Linked DNA regions of Homo sapiens. The protein of the gene in region 4 interacts with the protein of the main gene of each other region in a biochemical or structural test. Each region holds a gene or a part of one and is shown on either strand. Other genes may lie near its edges.

Region 1 (7,024 bases), on a different chromosome or scaffold from region 4:
GACATAAATGACATAGCAACAGTGTGAGGTCTCCCAATGAAGGGAGGTATTAGAAGAAAATCCAAGCAGTTTGATTTGGATTAATAGTTCTACCCCAAACACCTAAGAGAAATCGGAATTCCAGTACTGTCTCTTACAATATAGTCATCATCTATACACCTTTTTACCACGCCATATAAGCAAAATAAAGTCACAATGTGAAACTTTACTCCACTGGCTATTACCCTCTGGAACCAAAAGATGGAAAACTTCATTTGGGATATACAGTAATCTAAAGAAAAATTCAGCACTTATGAATGTAATAACTACTGTTACCATTTGAATGCCTCTTACAAACCAGGCACAGTATCAGATGCATATTCTGATTTTAGAAATAAACAGATTCAGAGGTTAAATAATCTGCCAAAAACAACAGGATTACTAAGTGGTGGAAGCCAGATCTGTTTAGGATCCAAAGCCTAAATAGGTTCTTTTCACTAAATTTAATACTATTTCCTTAGTTCTCCAAACTGATTTATTAACAGCCTATCCAAAACACTATAATAAAATGAACTGCTTTAAATTTGGAGGCAAGGTAGGGGTGGGATACTGAGTTTCAATAATCAGGTTTCTTCATTATTCTTTTACCTGAATGGGCTGGCCACCAGGCCACAATTGTATAAAAATCAGATTTTAAATGATGGAAAAGCTTTTCTGTGTGGCTACTGAAGGGAGAAAGGAAGACAACTGAGACATGCCCCACCTTGCTGGCTGGGGGCTGGTGACATCTGTGGGCCTCAGTGTTGGACTCCAGATGCAACAAAGCCTAAAGTTTTGAATATGTATGAAGGTCAATGTGATGTTTTCCAAAAACAGTCATAAAAGATGGCTGTGAAAAACCCCCTAGTATAACAACTGTATGTAACAAGAGCATATAGGTAGCTGCAGATGAATGCTCAGGTCCTTAGCTGTGGTGTTTAAAAATTCTTCAGACCAGGCTGGGTGCAGTGGCTCACACCTGCAATCCCAGCACTTTGGGAGGCCGAGATGGGTGGATTGCCTGAGCTCAGGTGTTAGAGACCAGCCTGGGAAACACAGTGAAACCCCATCTCTACTAAAATACAAAAAAAAAAAAAAGCCAGGCGTGGCAGCGTGCGCCTGTAGTCCCAGCTACTTGGGAGGCTGAGGCAGGAGAATTGCTTGAACCCGGGAGGTGGAGGTTGCAGTGAGCCAAGGTCGTGCCACTGCACTCCAGCCTGGCAACAGAGTGAGATGCTATCTCCCAAAAAAAAAAAAAAAAAAAAAAAAAAAAAAAATTTCTTCGGACCAGTGTGGTGGCTCATGAGTGTAATCTCAGCACTTTGGGAGGCTGAGTTAAGAGGACTGCTTGAGCCCAGGAGTTTGAGACCAGCCTGGGCAACATGGTGAGACCTTGTCTCTACAAAAAAAATTAACAACTACCCACAAAGAAAACCCTAGCTCAAGATGGCTTCACTGGAAGGAAAAATGAACTGGTCAGGAAGACAGACAAATAGAAGCAAATAATGAAAGCATTTTATTTGACATTGATAACCTTCTCACAATAAATTATGTGGCAAAATACATGCTTGAATACTTAATTGCTAGGCAATAGTCTATTTTCATTTTTTCACAAAAGGTAGACAACTCCAAAGCAGATGGCCATTTGTAGCCATTCTATATAATCATAAATACACAAAACACTGGCCGGGCGCGGTGGCTCACGCCTGTAACCCCAGCACTTTGGGAGGCTGAGGCGGGTGGATCACCTGAGGTCAGGAGTTTGAGGCCAGCGTGGCCAACATGGCGACACCCCGCCTCTACTAAAAATACAAAAATTAGCCCGGTGGGGTGGCATGCACCTGTAATCCCAGTTACTTAGGAGGCTGAGAGAGGAGAATCACTTGAACCCAGGAGGCAGAGATTGCGCCACTGCACTCCAGCTTGGGCGACAGAGCAAGACTCCATCTCAAAAAAAAAAAAAAAAAAAGTTTTAAAGTGCCGATAAATACAAGTTCCTGGTCTGCCTACAGTTTATCACTTAATAATACAAAGCAAACAAGAAAGCAAGTTAGTGGATTACCTGAGAGAGCAAGACATAGAGAAGATGTTAATGCAGGGAGCTGGCCTTCTCCAAACATATCCCTAACACACAATATTCAAGCAATTCCCAAACTGTGATCAGAGAACCACTGGGAGTAAGACCTCTGATCTATATTTACAAGTCTATAGGTGAGCAAAGGTAGACCTTTTCCTGAGTCTGAGATGGGAATATTACCTTCTCTATCTAGAAGCAAAAGAATCCTAGACTCACCAGGACTAGGTAATAGACACTGTACACGAGTAATTGAGGTAATCTACACTGGGCGTGACTTACATACTGATCCACCCCTAGGCAGCAATTCATACCTCACCCACCCAACAGGCTACATTAGAAACAAGGAAGTACAGGTCAAAAGTCTCATTAAAAAAATAAGAACTCTTGGCAGCAGAAAATGAAAATAAAGAATGAAGAATGACAGCACTGGCAATAAACACATTCTTTTCTCCGAAAGGGAAGGGAAAGAACTAATGTTGGGCACCCACATGCCAGACATTTTATCAATTTTCTCCTTTAATCCTCAATAATCCTGAGATAATACTAGCTAGTACTCTAGTTATTAATCCTCACAAAAATCCTGAGGTAGGTACTACTAATTCCCATGTTACAGGTGAAGAAACCAAAAGTTAGTAAGTTGCCCAAGGTAGTTGTTATCCGAACTGTAGAGACAAGAACTCCCAGACTTGAAGAGGTTAAGTAAACTTCCCCAAACTCAAAGTGGGAGTTCTTTCCCACTAACCTATTGCCTTCCCCTCCCTACCCGCAATCTCAATTAATTCTCTATTCTACCCCCTTCTCATTTCTGCAGCTGTTTCAAAAACTACACCTAAGATACAAAGCAAATAGGAGTTATTATAAGAAAACACCTCCAAAATCTACTAAGTTGTGGTATGATATGCCTGTTATCAGAAAACGTCACTCAATTTTGAGCTTGGAGGGCAGTGACAGTTTGGAGATCTTTAGCACAACGCCTGCCAGAAACGTGGCAGGCGCTCAGGATCTGCTGAATGAACAACATCTTCTGAGTGGTTATGAATTCAATAACCCAAAATGACCATCTCGTATTTCTGGATATGACATGATACCATTTTTTGGAAAATAATTTACCCATTCATTTTAAACAGGGTAGCTTTCTTAAAATTTATAGAACATTGATGAGATAGCTAAACTGAGAAATGCCCATTAAAGCATTAGTCATAACTTCAGGAAAATTTCAAATGTTCACTTTTCCAAGCAAATTAAAATGTTTCAGCTAATAAAAACCTGTCAGAAAAACCCACAAGACAAGAAAGTATAAAAAGAAAAGAGCAGCCAATATAAGGGCATTTAAGATGTCACACATAAAAAATTATAAAACATTAATCTAACTTGTACCTTGGTATTTAACCCTAAAACTGTCACCTCAGATAACACAATATTTTCTATGCAAGAAAACATTATCACCACGAATGTAAAGAAGCTTGCCGACCATAGCAACTGTTGCTACGTAGGGTTTTTTAATGTCTAAGACTGAAAGACAGAATTTGTAGAAACCAGTTAAAATGCCACTCTTAGCAGTATCTTGTGATACTGTGAATGCTTTCACCTTAAACTTTTTAAAAGACTCAATCTTTGACTTCTACATGTGAAAAAAAAAAAGTACATCTGGGAGCACTCAACGTAAGAAAACTACCAATTGTCTATAACCCAATGAAAATACATCCTTTGTTACAATGACAGCAGCTACTTTTCCTTAATAATCCTAGAGGAATTTCTTCATTTGAAAAGCTGGCTGGCCTAGATTTCTCTATAAACTAAATGACATGCTACTTTCGAAATTATCCATTTCAGAAGTTCAAAGAAATTCAGGTATAAGAACACATTAATACTCTCATGAAACAAACCTTATCCAGGTTACCCACGAATTGTGACAGATCAAAACCCAGTTTCTCATTTCAAATCAAGTATCACATTATTTATTACCTTAAAATACTAAGCCCTTACCTAATTCAATGGCAAATCATATTGGTTTTCAGTTTCTGAACTTGTACAAATCATACTGTAATATTTATGCAAAAGTTGTCATATAGTTGAATATTATAGACAGTTAACATCTTTTTTTTTTTTTTTTGAGACGGAGTCTTGCTCTGTCCCCCAGGCTGGAGTGCAGTGGCGTGATCTTGACTCACTGCAACCAACCTCCGTCTCCCAGGTTCAAGTGATTCTCAGCCTCCTGAGTAGCTGGGACCACAGGCACGCACCTCCACACTCAGCTAATTTTAGTAGAGATGGGGTTTTACCATGTTGGCCAGGCTGGTCTTGTCCTGACCTCAAGTCATCTGCCCACCTCGGCCTCTCAAAGAACTGGGATTACAGGTGTGAGCCACCATGCCCGGCCAACAGTAGAAAAGGGTACTCAGGGAACATAGTTCAAAAGTCATGATTCTCTATTGGCTGGACCAGGATTCTAGACTAGCTCTAGGGCTGAGATATCTTAGTAGACCAGTTAACATTCATGTGGCCCAATTTCCCTTACTCTAAACCCAAAGTCAAACATAACCTCTAAAGTCTTTCATACCCTGAAATGCTAATCTTGTAATCATCTTTCTATTCAGGTAATAACTCAAAAGAAATGGTCTCACTTCCTTCATCCTCTGACTAAAGTTTAGTTAGTCCATATTTTATGAATCCAATTAATAGGATACTTTAAAGAACAAAAAGAAAAGACTTTTCTTAAAAGCTAGAAACTCCATTCTGTAGTGATGATTCCCAGATCTGACTCTTAAACTCAACAACCTCAACAGACAATGACAGGGAGAAAAGATCTTACAAGTTTGAGCTGAGCTGGGGTGGGGTGGGAGGTGTGAGAGAACAGAGAGACAGTTACAAATTCACAAAAATGTATCACCCATTTCCATCTCCTCTAAAAAAATATGAAATAAGCCTTAAAAGGCTGTCATAGAAACCCATTATTAAGCCAATAAAAACTAATGAAGAAATTATGTCATTTATCCAAGATATGGAAGAACCACCTATTTACAGAAATCCTACCAATGTCCTAGACCTTCAGAAACTACATCTCACTAAGCTGACCATCAAGCCCCTTCAAACTGCATCTAAGGACAATAATAATATTCAAACATCAAGAAACAGGCACAGGTTCCACTCAACACCATTATTCCGTGGAGTCTTCCAGGACTAAATTGTTTTATAGAATCTTTGCTATCTTTGTTCTCTAGAAAATGATATCCCAAAGACTCTAAAATAAAACCAGCAAAACCCCTGTATTTGTTTTCCATTGTGTCATAACAAATTATCACAAACAAAACAACACAAATGGATTATCTTACAGAAGTCAGTGGGCTTGACTGGGTCTCACAAGGGCTAAATGAGGGTATCCAGTGGGTGGGTTCCCTGCTGGAAACTCTGGGGAAAATTTGCTTCCACATTCATTCAAGCTATTGGCTGAATTTAGTTCCTTGCAGCTGTAGGACTGAGTTCCCACTTCCTTGCTGGTTGTCAGCTGGGACTGGCCTTTCCTACTAGAGGCTGCCTGCATTCCCCGTCTCACACTTTCAATCTGGTCCCCTCCAGTAACGGCAGGCTGAGTCCTTCTCATGCTTCAAATTTGACTTCCCCTTCTGCCTCATCTCTGACACCAGCCAGAAAAAGTTCTCTGCTTTTAAGTGCTTATGTGAGTAGAATAAACCCACCCAGAAAATCCAAGATAATCTACCTAAGATCCTTAACTTTAATTAAATCTACTTAACATATTCATGTTCCAGGGTTTATAGTATGGAAATCGTAGGGGAGCCATTCTGCTTACCGCAGTCTGCCTTCTGGTTTCCAAGGATTCATCTCTCTCTCAAATGCAAAATACATCCATCCCATCCCAAGGTCCCAAAGGTTTCCCATCTAAAGCTTATCATTTCAGAAGTCCCAAATCTCATTCATCTATTCAGGTGTGGATGAGGTTCTGGGGACAAAACAGTAAGTCCAATTCCTGGGGCACAATTCCTAAAGAAACAAGTTCTCTACTCCCAACATACCACTGTGAGACATGTAGAGAATAACAGTTAGACATTCCAGTTCAAATGGGCAAAATGTAAAAGAAAACAGAGCCTCCGGTCCAAAGCAGTTTCAAAATCTAGGGAATCTCCATTCCATTTCAAAGCCTGGGAAAAATCCTCTCCAGCTTTTAGCTCCACCCCTCTGGGCTCTCCTATCTCCGTCTGAGTCACCCTGATTCTTTTATGAAAAGCAACACATTCACATGTGAGTAGTTTTATCAGCCTGCTTCCTATCAGTAGAATTTGGGGGGTCCAACAGCCCTATTACTTTCTGTCTCTTTCAATCCAAACTAGAACTGTTTATGTTGGCATAAAATTCTCAAGAACCTAATGGGCTGTGGAAGTATTCCACATGGGTCCACTCCATTAAAGTTCACATTCACAAATAAACCAGGCTGCACATTTAATACTTTGCTTGGAAATCTCAGCTAAATATACAAGTTCATCACTTGCAAATTTGGCTTTCCATATAACCATAGGATACAATTCTGCTAAACTTAGTTGCTACTATGTAACAAGGATCCCCTTTCTGCCAGTTTCCAATAAGAAAGACCTCACTTCTGTCTGGGCCCTCACTAGCAGAGTCATTAACATCCATATTGCTACTAAAAGTATGTCCTAGGCCTTTTCTTTTTTGACAGGGTCTCACTCTGCCACCCAGGCTGGAGTGCAGTGGTGCCATTACCGCTCACTGCAGCCTTGACTTCCTGGGCTCAAGCGATCCTCCTGTGTTCCAGGCCTTTTCTATCATGCCCCTCAAAACAATTCTAACCTTTATCTACTGCCACTTTCATTTTTAGGTAATAGTACCCCACTCCTGGTACCAAAATCTATACTAGTGTTCTACTGCTGCCATAACAAATTACCACAAATGTAG
Region 2 (7,024 bases), on a different chromosome or scaffold from region 4:
TCAGCTCTGGCAAGAAGAGGGAAGATATCAACTCCAATCAACCTAATTAGATGGTGGAGAGGCCAAGAATTCAGAATGTGTCCTTAATCCTTCACAGCTTCAACACCTCTCTAATACCAGTAAAAACTGTAAGAAAATAGTTAAATGCATGAGACAGCAGATATATAGCCAAGGCCTTCTACCACCCTCCTAACTATGTCTCAATATCAATTTATTCCCTAGTCCAAGGATGACATATTTCATAAGTAATTTTCTTAGTCCAAAAAAAAAAAAGAAAAATTATGTGTTTTTTTAAAGAAGTTTTTTTCTCCTCTTCTTTTTCTTTTTTTACTTAGGAAGGGGTGGAAGTGGTGGAGGAGGTTCTGATGGCAGAGGTGGTGGCCGGGGTTTGTCTGTATTGCCAGATCTCGAGGAGATTCCACCAGACCGAGGATTCAGATAGTCACTATAAGGACGAACAAATTCAAATGCAGTGGGCTGAGTGGGCTGAACACCCTGGGCACTGAGCAGGGAGTGAAGCATATTCACAGTGTCTTGATAGTCTATTGTCTGGGTCGTGTTGTGACCATTGGCCCCAGTGGGCCCTTTATCCAGTTTCGAATGAGGGACACGAGTTTTACAGCTGGGCTGTGAAAAGGAAAGGCCACTTGTGTCTGAGCTATGCCCAGGCATCTGACCCATTGTAGGAAGTGAAGGGAAGGAGAAATTTAGGGAAGAGGATTTAGTACTCTTGGCAATCTTGGCTGGATGATCAAACACAGCCCCTCCAGTCTCTTCAGAGGGTCCCCTTTTACGAGTAGAACTGGAAGAGGAAAAAGAACTAGACAAGCTATAGGTTTTATGTGCTAAGTTGCTTGTCTGGCTACTATGTTTTGGATCACCAGGACGTTTGTTCCCAGTACCAACTGGAAGTTGGGAATGAGAGTGCTTGTGTGAGTGGTGATTATGATGATGATGATGATTAGATGGGTGAGTCTTGTGCTTTTCTTTGTGCTCTCGGCTCTTTGTAACACTGTCCTCTACAGAATTGTGCTTATCAGCTGCAGCATGGACTTTTATGCGCATTTTTATCTCCTCTGGTTTTGAAGACGCAGCTTTATCTCCACCTGCCACTGGGATTCTCATTTTGAGAGCTGTTTTGTCAGCCTTTTCCAGAAAAGGCCGCTCGGGGTTTTCTGAACCCTCTATGGGCATTTTTAGAATGACTGAAGAATGGCTATCATGATGAGAAAGGAGATTCTGGGCAGCATATGCATATTGTGACTTCACATTGGCTTCCATGTTCTCCAGTTGCCTCTTCTGGGCAGCCAATTCTTCTGCATGCTTCGCGCGGTATTCTTTCAGTGACACTTTAGCTGATGGCACACTCTTACTATTCTGCTTCTGGGAAATAAATGCATTTGAACCATCCTGTGGTAAGGAATGATCAACTCCTGTAAGTGCTAAATTCTCACTAGTCCGATGACCCTGAGTAGGTTCTAGTTTGAAAGAAGGTTGGGAGGACAGCCAACGCTTGCCCGGCAACATCTCCACACTGGTTAAGTTGCTGGATGACTCTTCGGAGACTGGCAGGGAAGGCACTGCACTTGTGGTAGAAGTTGACATGCTCATTAAACCTGCAATGGTTGTGTCTGAAGAGCTCTGGGAAATCATATTGAGGATTGTCTGCTCTGAAGTCTTTTCATCTGTTCCTCGGTCATCTGCTTTTGTTTTCTTGGCAGCCTCGCATGCCTGCAATGAAGCAAATAGCATCTCTTTACTTAGGTAATTTACTAAATAAAAAAACACTGAGATGAGTAGATTGTACTTGCAGCAACACTGGAAGTTCTGGATAGGCCACAGGCAGGAGGCTATCCTAACATGTAATCCAATAAATATTACCATCAAGAGAAGATTTTAAAACCTTCAATTAAGAGTCACAGCAATCTATCCAAACGTTACAAAGCAATAATAACAACAAAGAATCTATGCTTATCTAAAATTCATACATGAACATCCATGCCTTCGCTTATGATTATAGTTAGTCCATAACTGAGTTCTAGAAATTTTGGTGAGGTTTTATGCTAAAGTAAAAGATGTGCTCTCAAGCCTACTTCTTTTTTGTTGTTACTGTTGTTTTTTGTTTGTTTGTTTGTTTGAGACAGAGTCTCACTTTGTCATCCAGGCTGGAGTGCAGTGGCACAATCTCGGCTCACTGCAACCTAACGTCCCGAGTTCAAGCGATTCTCCTGTCTCAGCCTCCCAAGTAGCTGGAACTACAGGTGTGCATCACCATGCCTGGCTAATTTTTGTATTTTTAGTAGAGACGAGGTTTCACCATGTTGGCCAGGCTGGTCTCGAACTCCTGACCTCAGTTGATCCGCCTGCCTTGGCCTCCCAAAGTGCTGGGACTACAGGCATGAGCCACCATGCCCGGCCTCTCAAGCCTACTTCTAATCTCAGGCTTCTAAGAGGCAAACTCACTCTCTGCCACTCACTCAACTCAGGAGAATGAAATTAACTTTTTCTGTCTGGATTTAGGAGAAAACAATGGAAACATTTTAAAACAAGTTTTATATCTGACAGAAAAAAAAGGAATGATTCCATTATTCCTGAATAAGGCTTTGACAAGTATTTGAAATACAACTTCAGACTACAGCCTATATAAAAACAAAATTCTAAAATCCATTTTAAAAGTAGGTAATGTCAAACACAAAACTGTGATACCGGCTCTAACCTTGTAATTCTCTATCTTGCCTCTACCAGAAGCCAATACTCTAACTCCGAGAAGCCATGTTTTTTCCCTACCAGTTTCCACACAGAAAATACTGAACCAGTGTTACTGCTCAAATGATCATATCACAGGAGTTACACAATGAAAAGCAAATCCTGCTATCCCATAGAGACACTGACTTTTACAACAGTATCCAAGGTATGAAGTAGAAGTCATGATTACTGTGTAACTATAAAAAGGGCAATTCCAAACCTAGGGTACATATTCAATACTGGTATATTCACTGGTGCAGTCAAAAGAAATTGATTTTGTTCCACAAGCTGACAGTAATGATTCTTACCCTCCAATTCCAAATGCGTTTGAGCCTGTTGGGAGTTTTCTCCAAAATCTGTAGAAACTCATGTGTCAGTTCTACAAGTAAAACAGAACATTCAAGAAAGACTGAGAGAAACAGAAGTAATGAAACAAGAATAACCTGAACTACTAACTAACTATTTTCATCTGAATCAAGTCACCTTTGGCCAGCTATGTGACAGATCAACAGCAAGTGCTTTTCAAGGTCCCTTACTCTAAAACTTACCATCTAAAAGTTCCAAGGTCACAGTGGCGTCAACATACTCCCACCAGTGCTTCCCGTCAGTTGAGACTGGGATCTCCCAATTGGACCACTTGCAAGCCAGGTGAATGCAGACACAGGCCACCACAGGAGGTGTGTACTGCAGGCTAAATGTGGTCAAATGCAGGCTGACATCAGAGGGAAGAAAACAGAGAGTGTCATGAGCTCTCAATTCTCAGCCCAAAGCTAAAACTCTCCATTATTTAAAAAAAAAAAAAAAAAAAAAAAAAAAGGCTTAAAAATAGACAGGAGAGTAAGAAGGGTAAGAAATATGCAATGCTCTGATCTAGCACTCAATATAATTTCCTATTAACCCACCTGTTCAGGTAACAACATTTTAAAAACTCTTGAATTACACATCACTTAATCTACACATTGACCAGAGCCAAAAAAAAAAAAAAGGAAAAAAGGAAAAAGGCTGGGAATTCAAGTTCTTTAAAACATTGACTTCTGGGCCAGTATTCAAGCCTAGAAGTCAATATTTATTACCTATTATCCTGAGACTAAGCTCAGATCCTAAGGAAAATTGTAAGCTTTTTGGTCTGTGTAATCCGTAAATCAAAAACTTAAGGAAATATCTTAAAAATAATTTGTCTCTCACCAATCATAGTTCTGGTCTATTTAAAATAATAAACAGACAACTACTCTCTCAAGTATAAATATGTTGGTTTATTTCAAAACTTTTTCGTAACAGGCTATAAAAATGAACTTCTTAGCCCTGACAGTTACTAGGGATATCATTGGTTTCCATTAACTAACAATGTTGGGCAAGTCATTTGGTAATACAAGTTATGTACTAATCATTTACTTTTTTTAGACAGAGTCTCTCTCTCTGTCACCCAGGCTGCAGTGCAGTGGGGCAATCTCGGCTCACAGCACCCTCTGCCTCCTGGGTTCAAGCAATTCTCGTGCCTCAGCCTCCCGAGTAGCTGGTACTACATGCATGTGCCACCTTGCCCTGCCAATTTTCGTATTTTTTAGTAAAGATGTGGTTTCACCATGTTGGCCAGGTTGGTCTCGAACTCCTAGCCTCAAGTGATCCACCAGCCTCAGCCTGGGATTACAGGTATGAGCCACTGTGCCCAGTCTCATTTACTTTTTTTAAAAAGGGAAGAAGGAAAAAGACTGAAACTCTTAACATCCATAAGTGCCCATTGATTGATAGAGGGGGAAGAAAAAGGAATATTTTAAAATATAATTATTGGCCAGGCACAGTGGTTTACACCTGTAATCCCAGCACTTTGGGAAGCCAAGGCAGGCGGATCACTTGAGGCCAGGAGTTTGAGACCAGCCTAGTCAACATAGCGAAACCCCATCTCTACTGAAAATACAAAAAAATTAGCGGGGCATGGTGGCGCCAGTCTATAATCCCAGCTTAGTGAAGAGGCTGAGGCCGGAGAATCACTTGAACCCGGGAGGCAGAGGTTGCAGTGAGCCAAGATCGCACCACTTCAGTCCAGCCTGGTAGACAGAGTGAGACTCTGTCTTAAAAAAAAAAAAATATATATATATATATATATATATGCCTGTAATCCCAGCACTTTGGGAGGCTGAGGTGGGCAGATCACGAGGTCAGGAGATCGAGACCATCCTGGTTAACAAGGTAAAACCCCATCTCTACTAAAAACACAAAAATTAGCTGGGCGTGGTGGCGGGTACCTGTAGTCCTAGCTACTCGGGAGGCTGAGGCAGGAGAATGGTGTAAACCTGGAAGGTGGAGCTTGCAGTGAGCTGATATTGTGCCACTGCACTCCAGCCTGGGCAACAGAGCAAGACTCTGTCTCAAAAAATAATAATAATAATTTAAAAAAAAAAAAAAAAATATATATATATATATATATATACACATATAATTATTGCAGAATACTCCAAATTAGATTTTCAGTCACTATCATGCAGAACTGAGTAGGTTATCAAAAAAATCAGTACTAAATAATTACATAACCTTAGAAAATTAAAAAGTACCATGGAAATTTAAAGTACAACATGAAAACTGTGCAGAAAAATCAACATTCACCAGAGAATTATCTATAGCACACTGTATCAAACTCAAGTAAAGTCCTATACCAAAAATCGAAGAGAAAAAAAAATTAAAATATAAACCTGTTGGTTGCCATGAAGTAAGAAGTCTGTGCTAAGTCCTTGCTTGCTAAAGAAAAAAAAAAAAAGTCAGGGGTGGGGGAGGAAAAAAGTTATTAGTTCCATTCATTCTCAACAAATATTTAGTAAGCATTTAATATTTGCAAGGTACTGTGAATATAGTGGCAAATGAGACACACATGGTCCCTGTAAACCTGACGTTTACATTCTGCCAAAGTAGACAGATCAATGATTTTTAATTTTAACATTAATAACTATGCTGCTTCCAGATCTAGGTACTCAAGCTTTATTCTGCACACCACATATCTGAGGTACTTGTTTAAATGCAATTCTTGGACCTGCTCCCTAAAATTTAATTAAATGTTTGGAGAAGGGTGCAAGCATTTTTTAACAAGTAACCCAGAGATTCTGATGTAAGGATTCACTGAGAATCACTAAACTACAGGATGAACTAAGATGATCTAGAAGCAAGATCAGAATCTAGAAGACTTTGACATATTTGGGAAAAGTGACTTTTGCTGTTAAGAAAGTTTTTAATTAAGGCTGGGCACGGTGGCTCACGCCTGTAATCCCAGCACTTTGGGACGCCGAGGTGGGCGGATCACCTGAGGTCCAGAGTTCAAGACCAGCCTGACCAACATGGAGAAACCCCGTCTCTACTAAAAATAAAAAATTAGCTGGGGTGGTGGCGCATGCCTGTAATCCCAGCTACTCGGAAGACTGAGGCAGGAGAATCGCTTGAACCCGGGAGGCGGAGGTTGTGGTGAGCTGAGATCGTGCTACTGCACTCCACCCTGGGCAACAAGAGCAAAACTCCGTCTCAAAAAAAAAAAAAAGTTTTTAATTAAGTAGCCCTAATTAAGATTTAATTAATTAATCCCCAAATCATCAAATAATGTAATATATTACAATGAAAAAATTTAACTTCTTCCAAAACAAACTGTTCTGGGTGACAAAGCAAATTTTTATCTTCCTCAGGACATAGTCTTCTCAATATTAACATACACCCATCTCTAGTCTTATCCTTGTGCAATATAACATTTTAATACTTTCAAATATAAAGAACTCAGGAAAATTTGGGAATTTTCACAGGAAACACATATTAGTAAAATGTAAAATAAGACCAATTATCAGTTTGGCCTAAAAATCATAAAAGGCACTTAAAGGCACAATAGTGTTCAGATATTCTTGATACTAAACTAAATAAGAGAGTTTCATTCAATTATACCTAATATTGTTAAATTAGAATTAAAAAGAAAAGTTCTGCCAAGGGATTGTATATCATGGAAAGTCCAAATAAATTCTGTATGATCCTCTAGGTGGCCTTTAATCAACCCCAGAATTAAAATAAGATCACCCACTCCTCACAACTTTCATAAAATTTCTGTTAAATAACTTCACAAACTGCCCAACTTTGACAAACATTCTCAAGAGGTTAGTTCTCTTTAACTAGAGATCATCTAAAAATATTACTTGTAAGAACCCAACAGAAAAACATCAAGTCAGAACAACTCATTTTGATTTAAGCCAAGTAGGCCTTTAAATTTAGCCAAAGCAGAACTATTATGTATTGTCCACCACAAACCACAACCTCT
Region 3 (7,024 bases), on a different chromosome or scaffold from region 4:
GGAAAAAAGTTGTGAAAAACAATAGAATATATCATATATAAATAATATATCATATATAAATAAGTACAATCAGCCTTCTGTATCCTGTGGGTTCCACATCTGTGGACTAAACCAACTGCGGATTGAAAATAAGGAAAAAAATTCTATCTGTACTGAACATGTACAGAATTTTTTCTTATTATTCCCTCAAGAATACAGTATAACTATTTACATAACATTTACATTGTATTTAGGTATTATAAGTAATCTAGAGATGATTTAAAGTATATGGGAGGATGTGTATAGGTTATATGCAAATACGCCATTTTGTATTAGGGCATCTGTGGATTGTGGTTATGAGCAGAAAGTCCTGAAACCAATCCCCCATGGATACTGAAGGATGACTGTATATAGAATCTATAAAGCACTACAAACCACAAAAATGTGGCCAGGTGCAGTGGCTCACGCCTGTAATCCCAGCACTTTGGGAGGCTGAGGCGGGCGGATCACGACGTCAGGAGCTTGAGACCATCCTTGGCTAACACGGTAAAATCCCGTCTCTACTAAAAATACAAAAAAAAATTAGCTGGGCATGTTGGCATGCACCTGTCGTCCCAGCTACTTGGAAGGCTGAGGCAGGAGAACTGCTTGAACCCGGGAGGCAGAGGTTGCAGTGAGATCACGCCACTGCACTCAAGCCTGGGTGACACAGCAAGACTCCATCTCAAAAACAAACAAACAAACAAAAAAGCCAGAAAATTGGGCAAAGGGGATAAATAAGCAATACAGATGAAATATAAGTGACTGTTAAGTATGGAAAGTTCAATGTCCCATAATCAAGAAAATGCAAATTAAAATACCAATGTGATACTTTTTCACCCAGACTAGCAAAAGCTAAGCATTGATAATCACCCATTGTACAATATGTATGAAAAATGCAAAGAAGAAAAAAACGCTGCTTATTTCATAAATATATGGATATACGTGCAGAGAAAAGGCTGGCAAAGGTAAACAACTGCTAAGTAACTTCTGAGGTCATGACAGATTTGGGTTTTGATCAAAGGGAACTTTGGTTTCACTTGTATTGACTGACAATGACAAAACAGTTTTTGTGTCATGAAAACTAAAGGTAAAATAATTTTGAAGATCAAGGAAAACAAATATTTAGTCCTAAAGTAGCACTACTCATGGTAGCAAGTACCAGAGCTGGTCCATGAACAGTTTCCAGTTTGCAGTGAGTTAAGTACAGGAATTGTGTTTCATAATTTTTTTTTTGTTTTTTTTTTTGAGACAGAGTCTTGCTCTGTTGCCCAGGCTGGAGTGCAATGGCGTGATCTTGGCTCACTGTGACCCCTCCAGGGTTCAAGCAGTTCTCCCTGCCTCAGTCTTACAAGTAGCTGGGATTACAGGCACCCACCACCACGTCCAGCTGATTATTGTATTTTTAGTAGAGACGGGGTTTCGCCATGTTGGCCAGGCTGGTCTCGAACTCCCGACCTCAGGTGATCCGCCCGCCTTAGCCTCCCAAACTGCTGAGATTACAGGCATGAGCCACTGTGCCCGGCCCTAGAAATTTTTAATAGCAATTTGATATAATAATTTTATGACTGCTGAATCTAATAAAACTTGAGCTTATGTTTTTGTCTTCACTTTTCTAGTAATTCATTTTTTATTGAATTTTACAAAAGTATACATCTAGTGATTTTTTTTTAAAAAAGTCCTTCGCAGTTTGAGAAGCACCCCTCAAGTACTCATAGATATTCAGAATTTGGCCCAGTACAAGGCAGATGGCAATCTGGAATACAATGTAAGCTATGGCAGTTAAGAATTTTGGATTATGGTCCATTCAGTTACTTAGCTAGAAAGGGTAGGATTAGTAGTTCAGTGGTCTAATCCAGGGGTGGATAAACTTTTTCTTTAAAGAGACAGTAAATATTTTCGGCCTTGCAGGCCCTATAACCAGTTTCTGTTGCAACTACCTAACTTTTCTGCTGTATCATGAAAATAGCCATAGGTGATATATAAACGAATAGGTGTGCTACATTCCAAGAAACTGTGTTCTAAAAACGCTAATGGGCTGGATATGCCTGGTAGGTAACAGTTTGCCAACCCCTGGTCTAATCCCATTTCAAAATCAATGCAAAAAGGACATAATCAGTGCTGCAATACTTTTATTCATTAAAGTCAACATTACTTCTCTGTAACCACTCTGAAAAATTCCTGTTACCACTGAAACCGAGGAGTGAATGAAATCCACCAATTTCAAGTTCTATGCTAAAACATGCTTTGTCGTTATACCTATAACTATAATAAAACAACCTCATATTCTGCACACTTCCTAAGTCCGTAGATATTCCCCAACTACAACTGTATAGGTAAGGAATTTGAGTCATGTGTATTTGACATAAAGGCCTTGGAATTGCTGTTCTGGCTTTTCATAGTTATCCAGCAGCACATATTCACCAATTACAGAAATAATACCTCAAATACATCTTAAATATAAGATGCCACAGATAACTCCCATTAAATTTTAACAAATAAGGTATAACTTTAAGTAACAAAATGCATCCCACAGGAAATAGAAAATGGCAGTTTCATTAATCCTAGTACCTGTCCAAATTCCCAACTGCTTAAACACCTAAAAAAGAAAGTTTCAGTGGATCTTTCAATTTGCAAAGCACAAATTGCCAATTTTATGGTGATTTTCACATTCAGCTTACAAATCAATTAAGAGACATTAAAGGTGTTCTTATGGCTAGCCACAAGAAGAAATTACATGGCCTCTTTTCCTATTGGCTTTGTGGTCACTATAAAGTTTGTCACTGAAAGAAGTATGCCGGGAGGCCAAGGTGGGCGGATCATGAGGTCAGGAGATTGAGACCATCCTGGCTAACACGATGAAACCCCGTCTCTACTAAAAATACAAAAAATTAGCTGGGCGTGGTGGAGGGCGCCTGTAGTCCCAGCTACTCAGGAGGCTGAGGCAGGAGAATGACCTGAACCTGGAAGGCAGAGCTTGCAGTGAGCTGAGATCGCGCCACTGCACTCCAGTCTGGGCAATAGAGCGAGACTCCATCTCAAAGAAAAAAAAAAAAAAGAAGTATGCCAACTTTCTCTACTCTAGCTAACAGAAGTCTGGAAGAGCATATTTGTTCCTCAGACCAGATATCACAACTTCAAAGAGACAAAAGATTAAAAGGACAGGAAAAGGTAAAAGGATTCCTTAGGAAGACCCTGACCCCTGAAATCCCATGAGAAGTAACAGAACAGGACAGGGCCTGCAAGCCAAAGAACATATGAGTCACAGCAGGATCAGAACTGCACAGTGAATGCCGAACTATTACCTTAATCTCATTAGAAATGTCCATTCAATAAAGAAAATCTGATTTTATGGATCAGTCAGCTTTCCTCTAATGAGCAAACACCAATAAAATGATTTACGAACCAGCTGGACTGGATAACAGTTATGTCTATTGATTAACACTGTCACATTAACTTACGTGATTACGTTAAGTGCAAGCTCAGCAGAATGACATCGCTCCAACTTCTGTTTCAGAACAGCAACTTCTTCAGATCTGGGTGGTTCATACTTCTTTACTAAGTTTCTCATGCCTATGTGGATACAAAAAAAGAATTTAAACTGAATAAGCAAACCTCCTTCTCATAGTAAGGGAGCTGGTTACTTTTCCATTTTGTCATAGGAAACAACACTCTTCAAATGACATGGTTATTCTCAGGATTTGCATCATTCTGCATTTCATTCTACATTAAAATCCAATAAGCACTGTATGTTTAGTTCAAGTAATTATGGCTCTCTGCTGTTTAGCCCATATCATATACAGCATAAAGCACACTATAATCTAGCATTAATTTTTGGCAAATCCTACTGGGGTCACTTCTTGTTCAGTTTTAAGACTTAAAAAAAAAATCCCTAAATGATTTAGTGAACATGTTTTGTTCTCTATCACCAACCATCTTCGTAGTATTCTATTCCATAGACAGTGGGCCAAGCATATACTTCCTGTTTTCAAAGGAAACTGTTATTACACAACATGCAATAAAGGGAGGATGCTCAGTAAAAATTTGTTAATAATCCTTTGCTTTAACAAAACGCAAACCCTATACAAAAATGTCCACTTTAGGTTAAAAGCAAACTACTGTATCAGTAACTTTATAATTGCAAAAACATCCTCTAGCTGATCTTGTTATTCAACTATAATAAACCAAAGAATACAAATTTCAAGATTAGGGGAATGATGAGAGATCCAATGGGCTTATTATTACTATTAGCCAGCCATGTGATCCAAATGACTACACTACTGACCTATTTCATAATGCAAACAAAGCAGTATTTTTAACTGAATTAATACTTGTAACTCAACACCCTTAGGACAGTATCTATGTTCCAAAAATTACAAATATCTTAGTAGCATTAAACTTCTGAGTGTTTTATGAAGAGCTGTTTTTATTTCATTTTAAAACAAGTGGAGCAAAATAAAGGTATTGAGAAGAAATCAGTAATAAAACTAAGCTATGAAATGAGTACAGTGGAATAAGACCTTTACCTACTAAATTCTATGATCCTAACAGCTACAGTCAAATCACAATTAGCTTTTAAAGTGTACCCCCTAGTGGTATAACTAAAGACCTACAGTTTATAATTCATAAATCACAGCCATCATTCTCAAAGGAAGCCCTCAGGATCACTTCGAGCAGAGAATCAGGAAATGATACATAGATGCCCTGAAGCATCTTAAATTTTAAAACACAAAATATATAAAATGTATGCCCATTTACTGTCATCGAAAATCAAGATTTCAATCTTATATTCTACTGGTTTAATATTTAATTACAATACACATTTAATTAACAAGAACAATTTACACAAGAAGGTTTGGAAACAAACATGATCGACTTTTAACCCCAAAGAGTAGCTTAGCAGCCATGACCAAGTGTGCCACGGTCAAGAATGGAGAATGCTGGCTAATCCAGCCAATAAGTAAAGTAGAGATTCTACTCAACTCTCAACACCGGCACTAATGACAGGGTTTCTCAACACCAGCACTAATGACTTTTTGGGCTGGATAAGTCTTGATTACGCAGGGCTGTATTAGTTTCCTGACATTGCTATTAAAATTATCACAAAAGTGGTGGCTTAAAACAACGGAAGTGTATTCTCTCATAGTTCTGGAGCCCAAAAGTCTGAAATGTTTCACTGTGCCAAAATTAAGGTGCTAGAAGGGCCATACTCTCTCTGGAGGCTCCAGGGATGAATCCATTCCTTGCCTGTTCCAGCTTCCGATGGCTGCCAGCTTCCTTTGGCTTGCAGCCACATCACTCCAATTTTCAAGGCAAGCATCTTTAATTCTTTCTCTGCTGTCTTAACAGTGCCTTCTCTGAGTGTGTCAAATCTCCTTCTACCTTTCTCTTAAAAAAATAATTTATCTACAAAATAGAAGTTCCAAATTTAAACATTATCCTTAAGTTATTTCCCATTACATCTTTTTCAGTGCCTAGTATGTTTCTTTATTCTTTAAAAGGATCCTGTTGTCAATCTCTAAATCCTTTCTAAATCTGACTCTATTTTCACTCTTTGCATAAGTTCTATATAAATGAACACTACTTCCTTCTATATACCTTCTATTTGTTCTAGACCAATGTGTCTTTCATGCTTCCATAATACAGTAATTCAATGAAAAGAAATCTAAACAAAAATCTGTTATATTTCTAGTTAAACACCAAGAGATTTATTTAGAAAGGAGCTTTGTATTGGAAGAAACATTTTGTAAAGTGTTCTCTTTTACTTACTTTTCATTATATCTAGTAACTGTGACAGGCAAGTTCTGTTCTCTTTCAGCATCAGACTCTCTGATAAATAACTAGTAAAGAAAAGAAAAAAAAATCTATTGAAAACATACAGCACATTGAGAAAACATGACATCATAAATTATTTTCCTCCATCCTCATCAAAGGCAATTAAAAAATTTTTAAATTTATGAATGTATAATCTGTAACTCCTATATTTTAAGGATTTATTACCACTTACATTAAAAGATGTTTATTGTTCCTTTAAGTTTAGTGACATTCAGGTACAACCTTTCAGAGGGAAAATAGTATGAAAGCAACAGTAATAGCCAGTACTTATAACATTTATATCTTTTAATATAGAAGCCCAATAAGGCTAACCTTATTTTACAGATGAGGAATCTGAGTTACAGGGATGAACAAGTCATGATCTTGTAACTTGCCCAAAGTAATAAAGCTAGGAAGCAGCAAAACTGGAATCTGGCACTAGTAAGGATTCTCTATTCCCTTAATATGAAAGCCATTTTATCTATAGTTGCACTTCTGTGGAGTAACAGACATTCAAACCAACAAGACTACCACCTAATGCTTTATAAATCTATTGCATCTTATTTGCATCAAGTCCAAATCAAAGGTGTTAAACTTACTTATCAATGTGATATAAAACCCAAATTACCTGTTTTTCTCAGAGCCACTGACAGTATGAAAATATAATTTCTATATTAAAATTTCAGTTACTCTGAAGTTTTACATACCTGAACTTGACCTATGATTGATAAAAGGCGAAATGAACAGATTCTCAAAATGTTAAATAGTTTTTCAAACACAAATGCAAAAAACTTATTTTTCTCTTGGGGGTAATAGTTAGAAAAATAGAAAGCAATGCTTTAAGAACTCTTGTTGCTGTCTTTATCCAGATTTATTTAAATTTTATTATAAAGTTTGGTAACTGTTTGATATTACATCATCATCATCTACTGTGGGAATAAATTTTGGATCTGAAAATCAGGAAATCTCCTGACAACTAATCCATTTCTGGCTACCAGTAATTCAAAATAACTAGTTTTTTCCTTTCCCTCTCCTACCTAAAATTCCTCCCATTTTTGTCATCTTCCTTTATTTTTACTCTTCATTTCCTTTTGATTTCTTAAGCATAAGGGTCATAGGTTTGGTGCTAAGAGTTGGCTGACTAGACTCATTATCTCTGTGAAGTTAGCAACTCTTAACCTCAATTTTGAAT
Region 4 (7,839 bases):
CCTCTGCGTCCTGGGTTGAAGCAATTCTTCTGCCTCAGCCTCCCGAGTAGCTGGGACTACAGGCATGTGCCACCATGCCCAGCTAATTTTTGTATTTTTAGTAGAGACAGGGTTTCACCATGTTGGCCAGGATGTTCTCGATCTCTTGACCTCGTGATCCACCTGCCTCAACCTCCCAAAGTGCTGGGATTACAGGCGTGAGCCACCGTGCCCGACCTTTTTTTTTTTTTTTTTTTTTTTGTAGATATGGGGTGTCGCTGTGTTGCCCAGGCTGGTTTTGGACACCTGGGCTCAAGTGATCTTCCTGCCTTGGCCTCTCAAAGAGCTGGGATTACAGGCATGAGCCACTGTGCCCAGCTGAGTGTCTTTTTCTAGCTTGCACATAAGTACAGCATGGGATAGTGTCAGGCCTTACGGTTGGGATTATCCAGAGCCCTATTTACAGATGAGGAAACTGAGGCCCAGAGAACTGAAGGGGTTTGTTCCAGGACACAGATAAGAAATCTTGGGAGTGGGGACTTGGACTCATGCCCTTACCCATAGATACCAGGTCACTTTGTCCCTACTGTGTGTCCTGCTGAGACTCTAGGCTGCTCCAGGTTGGAGCTGTCTGTGATTGGGTTTGAGGAGGGACCATCTATGGGAACTGCTGTGTTCCAGCTACAGTACCTGCTGGATCTCCTGGGGTCCCGGCTGTGGGTGGCCAGCCAGGGCCCTTGCCTGTCCTGTGAAGGACATCCCCAGAGACCTGTCCCCCTCTTGGAGTTACTACAGGGAGCTTGTGCTTGGCACCCTACCACAGCCTGAGCTTTGGAGGACATGGGCTCCCAGGTACACCCAGAGAGGCTGGGTAGAGAGAGGGAGGGAATAGTCTTCAGCTCCAACTGCCAAACCCTAAGCCTTTTCTTCCCTCTAGGCCAGAGGACCCCACCTGGAGCCCTAGTAGCCAAGGGGAAGAGTTAAGAAGGAGGAAAGTAAGGTGCGATCTGAAGTCTCTGACCTCTTGGGCAGGGAGTTGGATAAATTGCCCCACCTGCCCCCATTCTCACCCTCCTTTAGATACTCTTCTCTCTTCTTCCAGGAAGGGACAGAGAAGTGCACAGGTATTCTCTAACCTCATCCCTATACCTTGAGAACAGGGAGGGTCCTGTGGTTCACATCCCTACATCCCTGGCTACAAAAAATTACCACTTGAAGAACTTTCTTTTCTTTTCTTTTCTGTTTTTGAGGCAGAGTCTCACTCTGTTGCCCAGGCTAGAGTGCAGTGGCATGGTCTCAGCTCGCTGCAACCTCCACCTCCTGGGTTCAAGTAATTCTCCTGCCTCAGCCTCCTGAGTAACTGGGATTACAGGCACGCGCCACTACACCTGACTAATTTTTGTATTTTTAGTAGAGATGGGGTTTCACAATGTTGGTCACGCTGGTCTCGAACGCCTGACCTTGTGATCTGCCCACCTCAGCCTCCCAAACTGCTGGGATTACAGGCGTGAGCCACCGTGCCCAGCCCACCACTTGGAGAACTTTCAAGTAATACTGATGGCCAGACCCCAGCCCAGATAATTTGATAATTGGTCTCTGGTGAAGCCTGAGCATCTATATTATTTTTATTATTATTTAGAGACAGGGTTTCACTATGCTGCACAGGCTGTAACTTGGCATCTGCCCATATATTTTTTTGAGACAGGGTCTCACTCTGTCACCCAGGCTGGAGTGCAGTGGCATGATCAAAACTCATTGCAGGCTCGATCTTTCAGGCTCAAGTGACTCTCCCACCTCAGTCCCCCAAGTAGCTAGCGCTATAGGCGCATGCCACCACACTCAGCTAATTTTTGTATTTTTTGTAGAGATGGGGTTACCCTTTATTGCCCAGGCTAATCTTGAACTCCTGGCTCAAGCGATACTCCCCCCTTGGCCTCCCAAAGTGCTGGGATTATAGGCATGAGCCACCACACCTGACATTTTTTTTTTTTTTTTGAGACAGAGTCTCCCTTTGTCACCCAGGCTGGAGTGCACCGGCTGGTGGACTGGATGGCCACATTTCCATCACCCCAAAGCATTCCTTCTCTCTCTTCCCAGTCAATTTCCACCTCCCTCTCCAGCCCCAGACATCCACTAATCTGCATTGTCTGTATAGGTTGGTTTTGCTTGCTCTGGAGTTTCATATGAATGGAATCATGCTGGACATCTCCTGATGTCTGGCTTCTTTCACTCAGCATAATGTTTTGGAGATTCAGTCATGGGTGTATTGGTAGTTGTTACTATTCTGTTGCATGGATGGATGTACCAAAATTTGTTTTTCTTTTGAGACGAGTCTCACTCTGTTGCCCAGGCTGGAGTGCAGTGGTGCGATCTCTGCTCACTGCAACCTTCACCTCCCTGGTTCAAGTGATTCTCCTGCCTCAGCCTCCCAAGTAGCTGGGATTACAGGCGTGCGCCACCACACCTGGCTATTTTTTTTTTTTTTTTTTTTGTATTTTTAGTAGAGATGGGGTTTCACCATATTGGCCAGGCTGGTCTTGAACTCCTGACTTCGTGATCCGCCTGCCTTGGCCTTCCAAAGTGCTGGGATTACAGGCGTGAGTCACTGCGCCCGGCCCTAATTTTTGTGTTTCCAGTTTAGGGCTATTATGCAACTCTTTCTTTCTAAAATATTCTCAAGTATTCTGATGTGCTACCAGAGTTGAGTTCAGAACCACGGATCCACCAAGGAAGAAACTTCCATGGCTGGGGAAATGACTGTGCCCTCTTTTTTCTGCAGGGAATGGCTTTCTGCAGCAGTGTCTGTAGCGATTTAATATGTAGAATCCTATTTTCTTGTTGTTTTTTTTTTTGAGACGGAGTCTTGCTCTTTTGTCACAGCAACCTCCACCTCTCAAGTTCAAGAGATTCTCCTGCCACAGCCTCCCGAGTAGCTGGGATTACGGGTGTGCGCCACTACGCCACCTGGCTAATTTTTGTATTTTTTAGTAGAGACAGGGTTTTACCATGTTGGCCAGGCTGGTCTTGAACTCCTGACCTCAGGTGATCCGCCTGCCTTGGCCTCCCAAAGTGCTGGGATTACAGGCGTGAGCCACCGCGCCCGGTGGAGAATCCTTTCTTTTTTTGAGATGGAGTCTAGCTCTGTTGCCCAGGCTGGAGTGCAGTAGCACGATCTCGGCTCACTGCAAGCTCGGCCTCCCGGGTTCACGCCATTCTCCTGCCTCAGCCTTACGTGTAGCTGGGACTACAGGCGCCCGCCACCACGCCCAGCTAATTTTTTTTTGTATTTTTAGTAGAGATGGGGTTTCACCGTGTTAGCCAGGATGGTCTCGGTCTCCTGACCTCGTGATCCACCCGCCTCGGCCTCCCAAAGTGCTGGGATTACAGACGTGAGCCACCGCGCCCGGCCCAGGTGTGTCATACTTATGTGAGAAATTTTACCAATGTGTCCTGAGGCTTCTTTTTTTTTTTTTTTTTTTTGAGACTGAGTCTCACTCTCGCCCAGGCTGGAGTGCAGTGGCGCGATCTCGGCTCACTGCAAGCTCCGCCTCCTGGGTTCACGCCATTCTCCTGCCTCAGCCTCCCGAGTAGCTAGAATCACAGGCACATGCCACCACGCCCGGCTAATTTTTTTGTATTTTTAGTAGAGACGGGGTTTCACCATGTTGGCCAGACTGGTTTCGAACTCCTGACCTCAGGCAATCTGCCCGCCCCGGCCTCCCAATGTGTTGGGATTACAGGCATGAGCCACCGCGACTGACATAGACTTCTGATTTTTAAAATTTCCCCTATCAGGTTAATTTTTCAATTTTTAAAAATTTAAGTTTTAATTTTTTTTTTTTTTTTTTTTTAGAGACAGGGTCTCTATTACCCAGTCTGGAGTGCAGTGGTGCAATCATAGCTCACTGAAGCCTCAACATGGGTTCAAGTGATCCTCCCACCTTAGCCTTTGGAGTAGCAGGGACCACAGGCACACGCCACCACACCACATTAAAAAAAACACAAAAATTGGATACATGGGGTCTCAATTTGTTGCCCATGCTAGTCTCAAATACCTGGCCTCAGGTGATCCTCCCGCCTCAGCCTCCCAAAGCGCTGGGATTACAGGCGAAGGTTCATTTTTCATCTCTCCATTACACCTGTCCACTCTGCCATCACTCGTCAGCCGTCATTACTAATAGATAAATTCGCCTTTAAATGAACTTAGGAAGCCTGGAAAGAAAAATAGGGACTTGGGCCGGGCGCGGCAGGTTATGCCTGTGATCTCAGCACTTTGGCAGGACGAGGCCGGAGGATGGCTTTTTAGTTTGAGTTAGAGGAGTTTGAGACCAGGCCGGGCAACAGCCCGACTCTACCAAAAAAAAAAAAAAAGTACAAAAAGAAAGAAAAAGAAGGAAAAACCAGGGCTTCACGGTCACTCAGACTTGGCGAGGAGGCTTGGGTCTGCCGCTTTCCACTGAGTTTTTCTGAGCTTCAGCGTTCTCTCCAAAACGGGGATACGGATCTCCTGGGGATGCTTTAGAGGGCCTAGGAGATAAAGCCTTGTTTCTTTTATAATTTGCTATTCGCTGATTTCGCCGCCTCCTCGCAGCTTGGCCTACCGCGCTAGTGTTCCGGACTAACGAACAAACGGCTCACTAAATTCAAACATGAGTTTCAGCCTGGTCGCCGAGCCGGCGGGTAGAAAAAACCTTTCCCCTCCTAACCCTCCGCAGATGTCGGCCCCGCACTCCGCCCAGGCCAGCCCTGCCTCTCTCAAGATGGCGACCTGGAAGTGCGTCGCCCGTGCCAGCCCCGGAAATCTCGTGTTAGGCGAGGTCAACGGGTAGGTTCTCGCGAGAGGACCCGTCAGCCCCAGTCAGGCGTCGTGCGAACAGCAGCTGGTACCGAAGGCGGAGGTGGAGCCCGAGAGGTAAGTGCGTGTGCAGAGGTGGCAGTTCCGGGCGCCGGGGAGGTGTAGAGAACAGATTCGGAAACTGGGGAGGTCTAGCATGTGGCGTAGGAGGGGGTCCTCACTCCGCTTCGCGATTGCCAAAACGAGCCTGCCGGAAGCGCCCTAAGGGGTTTTCTTCTCCCAGGGAACCAGCGGGGAAACTGAGGCTCGGGGTGGAGCGCAGGATTGTGGGACGCGCCAAGGCTGCTGTCTTTCCCAGCAGCAGCGGAAGATGTCGGACAGCGAGGACAGCAACTTTTCCGAGGAGGAGGACAGCGAGCGCAGCAGTGACGGCGAGGAGGCCGAGGTCTGTGGCTGGGGCGCTGGGGGAGACATTGCGTCTGGGGACAGGACTCCGGGCAGAAAGGCCCCTGTGGGAGGCTCGAGGGGTTCACAGCGGGCTCTGGCTTCTGGGAACTCCCAGATTGTCTCAAGAGATAGAGAATTAGGCAAGTCGAAGTCAAGCAAAGGGACAGGTTCTGGAGGCCAGAAATGGGTCAGGTCCAGTGAGATAACAGGTGATGTTTTGAAAGTTTACTCTGTGTGCATATAGTAAGCACTTAGCATTAGTTTTTTTTTTTAGTTATGTCTAGTCATTCCATAACTATATTTGTAGTGCCTACTATGTACCAGGCGCAATTCTTTGCTCTTAGGGTACACCAGTAAACAAAAAGATTTTAAAAATGTCTGCCTTCGGGAATGTAAATAAATATAGCCAAGGAATAAACTATATAGTAAGCTGGAAGGTACTCTGGAGAAAAGAACAGAAAAGGGGAATGGAGAGTCCTGGTTGCTCTTGAAATAGGGTCATCAGCATGAGTCTGAGGGGTGACATTTGAGCAAAAACTTGTTGGAGGTGAGGGAGTGAGTCGTGGTTAGCTGGAAGTGTAGTGTTCCAGTGAGGGGGACCAGCAGGTGCAGAGATGGGAGTGTGTCCGCCGTGTTCAGGGATTAACGAGGATTTGAGAGGCCAAGCTGGGAGGATCACTTGAGCCCAGAAGTTTGAGAGCAATCTCGGTAACACAACGGGACCCTGTCTCTACAAAAATATAAAAACCATTGGCTGAGGCCGGGCTTGGTGGCTCACACCTGTAATCTCAGCACTGTGGGAGGCCAAGACAGTGGATCACCTGAGGTCAGGAGTTCAAGACCAGCCTGGTCAACATGGTGAAACACCATTTCTACTAAAAATACAAAAAAATTAGCTTGGCATGGTGGCGCCCACCTGTAATCCCAGCTACTCGGGAGGCTGAAGCTGAGAATCGCTTGAACCAGGGAGGTGGAGACTGTGGTGAGCTGAGATCGCGCCACTGCACTGCAGCCTGGGCGACGAGCAAGACTCCGTCTTATAAAAATATTAGCTGAGCTTGGTGGCACGCTTCTGTAGTCCCAGCTACTTGGGAGGCTGAGGTGGGAAGATTGCTTGAGCCAGAAGGTGAAGGTCTAGTGAGCTGTGATGGTGCCACTGCACTGCAGCCTGGGTGACAGAGTGAGACTTTGTCTCCCCACCACCCCCTAAAAAAAGGGGGTCCACTTTGGTTGGATCAGAGTGAGTGCAACAAAGAATTTATGAGAGCCAAGTCATATAGGATCTTGAAGGCTGTGGTAAGGAATTTGGTCTTAACTGAGTAAAATGAAACCACGAAAAAGTTTGAGCAAGTGGAAGATGTGATCTAATGTTTTGAAAGGATCACTCTGGCTTTGGGTCTGTTGTACCTCTGTTCCAGGAACCAAAAAACCAACATTTCCTGGGGCATTTCTGATTTCAAATGTTCTTTTATTTGCCATTATCTTTTTTTTTTTTTTTTTTGAGACAGCATCTCACTAGGTTGCACAGGTTGGAGTGCAGTGGCATGATCTCAGCCCACTGCAACCTCAGCCTCCCGAGTAGCTGGGATTACAGGCATGCACCACCACATCAGGCTAATTTCTGTATTTTTAGTAGAGACGGGGTTTCACTGTGTTGGCCAGGCTGGTCTTGAACTCCTGACCTCAGGTGATCCACCCTCCTTGGCCTCCCAAAGTACTGGGATTACAGGCGTGAGCCACTGCACCAAGCCCATTATCCACCTTTTAAACTTATTTTTGTTTTATTTGTTTGTTGAACAAATCAGTGTTTGCATCTACTACTGTGTTCCACTTACTTCTCAGGTGTCTGGTAGGAAATCTTTGCATTTTTGGAGTTGACATTTAGTAGGTAGCAATCACAAACCAGTAAACAGATGACAGGGTGATTATAGATCCCTTGTTTGATGCACAGAAACTTAAATTGGCTGTTAAATTAGTTGCCAATGCTTGTGAGGGAGATTTAACATAAAGATTAAGATTTCTTTTTCTGGGGAAATGGAAGGAGCTGGCACCCTGGGACACAGAGTTGTTCTGCAGAGCAGCCGTTTGCTTGATGAGTGGCTGCCCTACTTATACAGCTGGGAATTTTCTCCAGTTCCCAGGATATGTTAGTTGCCATTTGTCCTCTTGCTTGCCTTGTGGCAGAGTGAAGAAAAGGAAAAGATTTCATGTGGCTGTGTTCTGGAAAACGTTTGGTAGATGGAGAGTGCTGTGTGTTTCGGGTGACTTGTCCCAGTCACTTATGTTGCCTGCTTATCCTCTGTGGACATTTGATTGCCAATCTTTATTGTGACCTTTGGAGAGTGCCTGGCTTCCAGGCTTGCAGTGAAGAGTTGGAGAAATTGGGATGCTGTGGTGGGAGAGTGACAGGGAGGGCCTTTTCTCTAAGCTGTAGCACTGGATTCTTGGTCTCTGATTCATGGCTTGGAGACACTGCTTGGTGGTTAAAGTCAGGTGGAAATGAGACCAAGATCCCCAGTTCCATTTCCTGTCTGGGACATTCTCGTTTGCACTGTTACTAGTCTCACTTCCCCAACACTACACCATACTTGACCCCCCACCCCCGCCGCTGGCTCCTC

The links.
Region 1: of the proteins of SUPT5H (region 4) and CSNK2A1, one has a biochemical effect on the other in vitro, tested with the Homo sapiens proteins (2 studies listed by BioGRID and IntAct).
Region 2: the proteins of SUPT5H (region 4) and CCNT1 form a complex in vitro, tested with the Homo sapiens proteins (2 studies listed by BioGRID, with this or other methods).
Region 3: the proteins of SUPT5H (region 4) and CCNH form a complex in vitro, tested with the Homo sapiens proteins (one study listed by BioGRID).

Annotation. Positions count from the first base shown.
Region 1 is NC_000020.11:533,772-540,795, forward strand, and holds part of CSNK2A1 (casein kinase II subunit alpha), read right to left. Parts: intron 1-7,024. UniProt on the Homo sapiens protein: Catalytic subunit of a constitutively active serine/threonine-protein kinase complex that phosphorylates a large number of substrates containing acidic residues C-terminal to the phosphorylated serine or threonine.
Region 2 is NC_000012.12:48,692,706-48,699,729, forward strand, and holds part of CCNT1 (cyclin-T1), read right to left. Parts: intron 5,479-7,024; coding exon 5,433-5,478; intron 3,534-5,432; exon of another isoform or gene 3,458-3,533; coding exon 3,294-3,457; intron 3,125-3,293; coding exon 3,054-3,124; intron 1,732-3,053; coding exon 328-1,731; 3' UTR 1-327. UniProt on the Homo sapiens protein: Regulatory subunit of the cyclin-dependent kinase pair (CDK9/cyclin-T1) complex, also called positive transcription elongation factor B (P-TEFb), which facilitates the transition from abortive to productive elongation by phosphorylating the CTD (C-terminal domain) of the large subunit of RNA polymerase II (RNA Pol II).
Region 3 is NC_000005.10:87,395,915-87,402,938, forward strand, and holds part of CCNH (cyclin-H), read right to left. Parts: intron 5,859-7,024; coding exon 5,788-5,858; intron 3,592-5,787; coding exon 3,480-3,591; exon of another isoform or gene 3,479-3,479; intron 1-3,478. UniProt on the Homo sapiens protein: Regulates CDK7, the catalytic subunit of the CDK-activating kinase (CAK) enzymatic complex. CAK activates the cyclin-associated kinases CDK1, CDK2, CDK4 and CDK6 by threonine phosphorylation.
Region 4 is NC_000019.10:39,440,747-39,448,585, forward strand, and holds the start of SUPT5H (transcription elongation factor SPT5), read left to right. Parts: upstream 1-4,835; 5' UTR 4,836-4,891; intron 4,892-4,897; exon of another isoform or gene 4,898-5,057; 5' UTR 5,058-5,144; coding exon 5,145-5,219; intron 5,220-7,839. UniProt on the Homo sapiens protein: Component of the DRB sensitivity-inducing factor complex (DSIF complex), which regulates mRNA processing and transcription elongation by RNA polymerase II.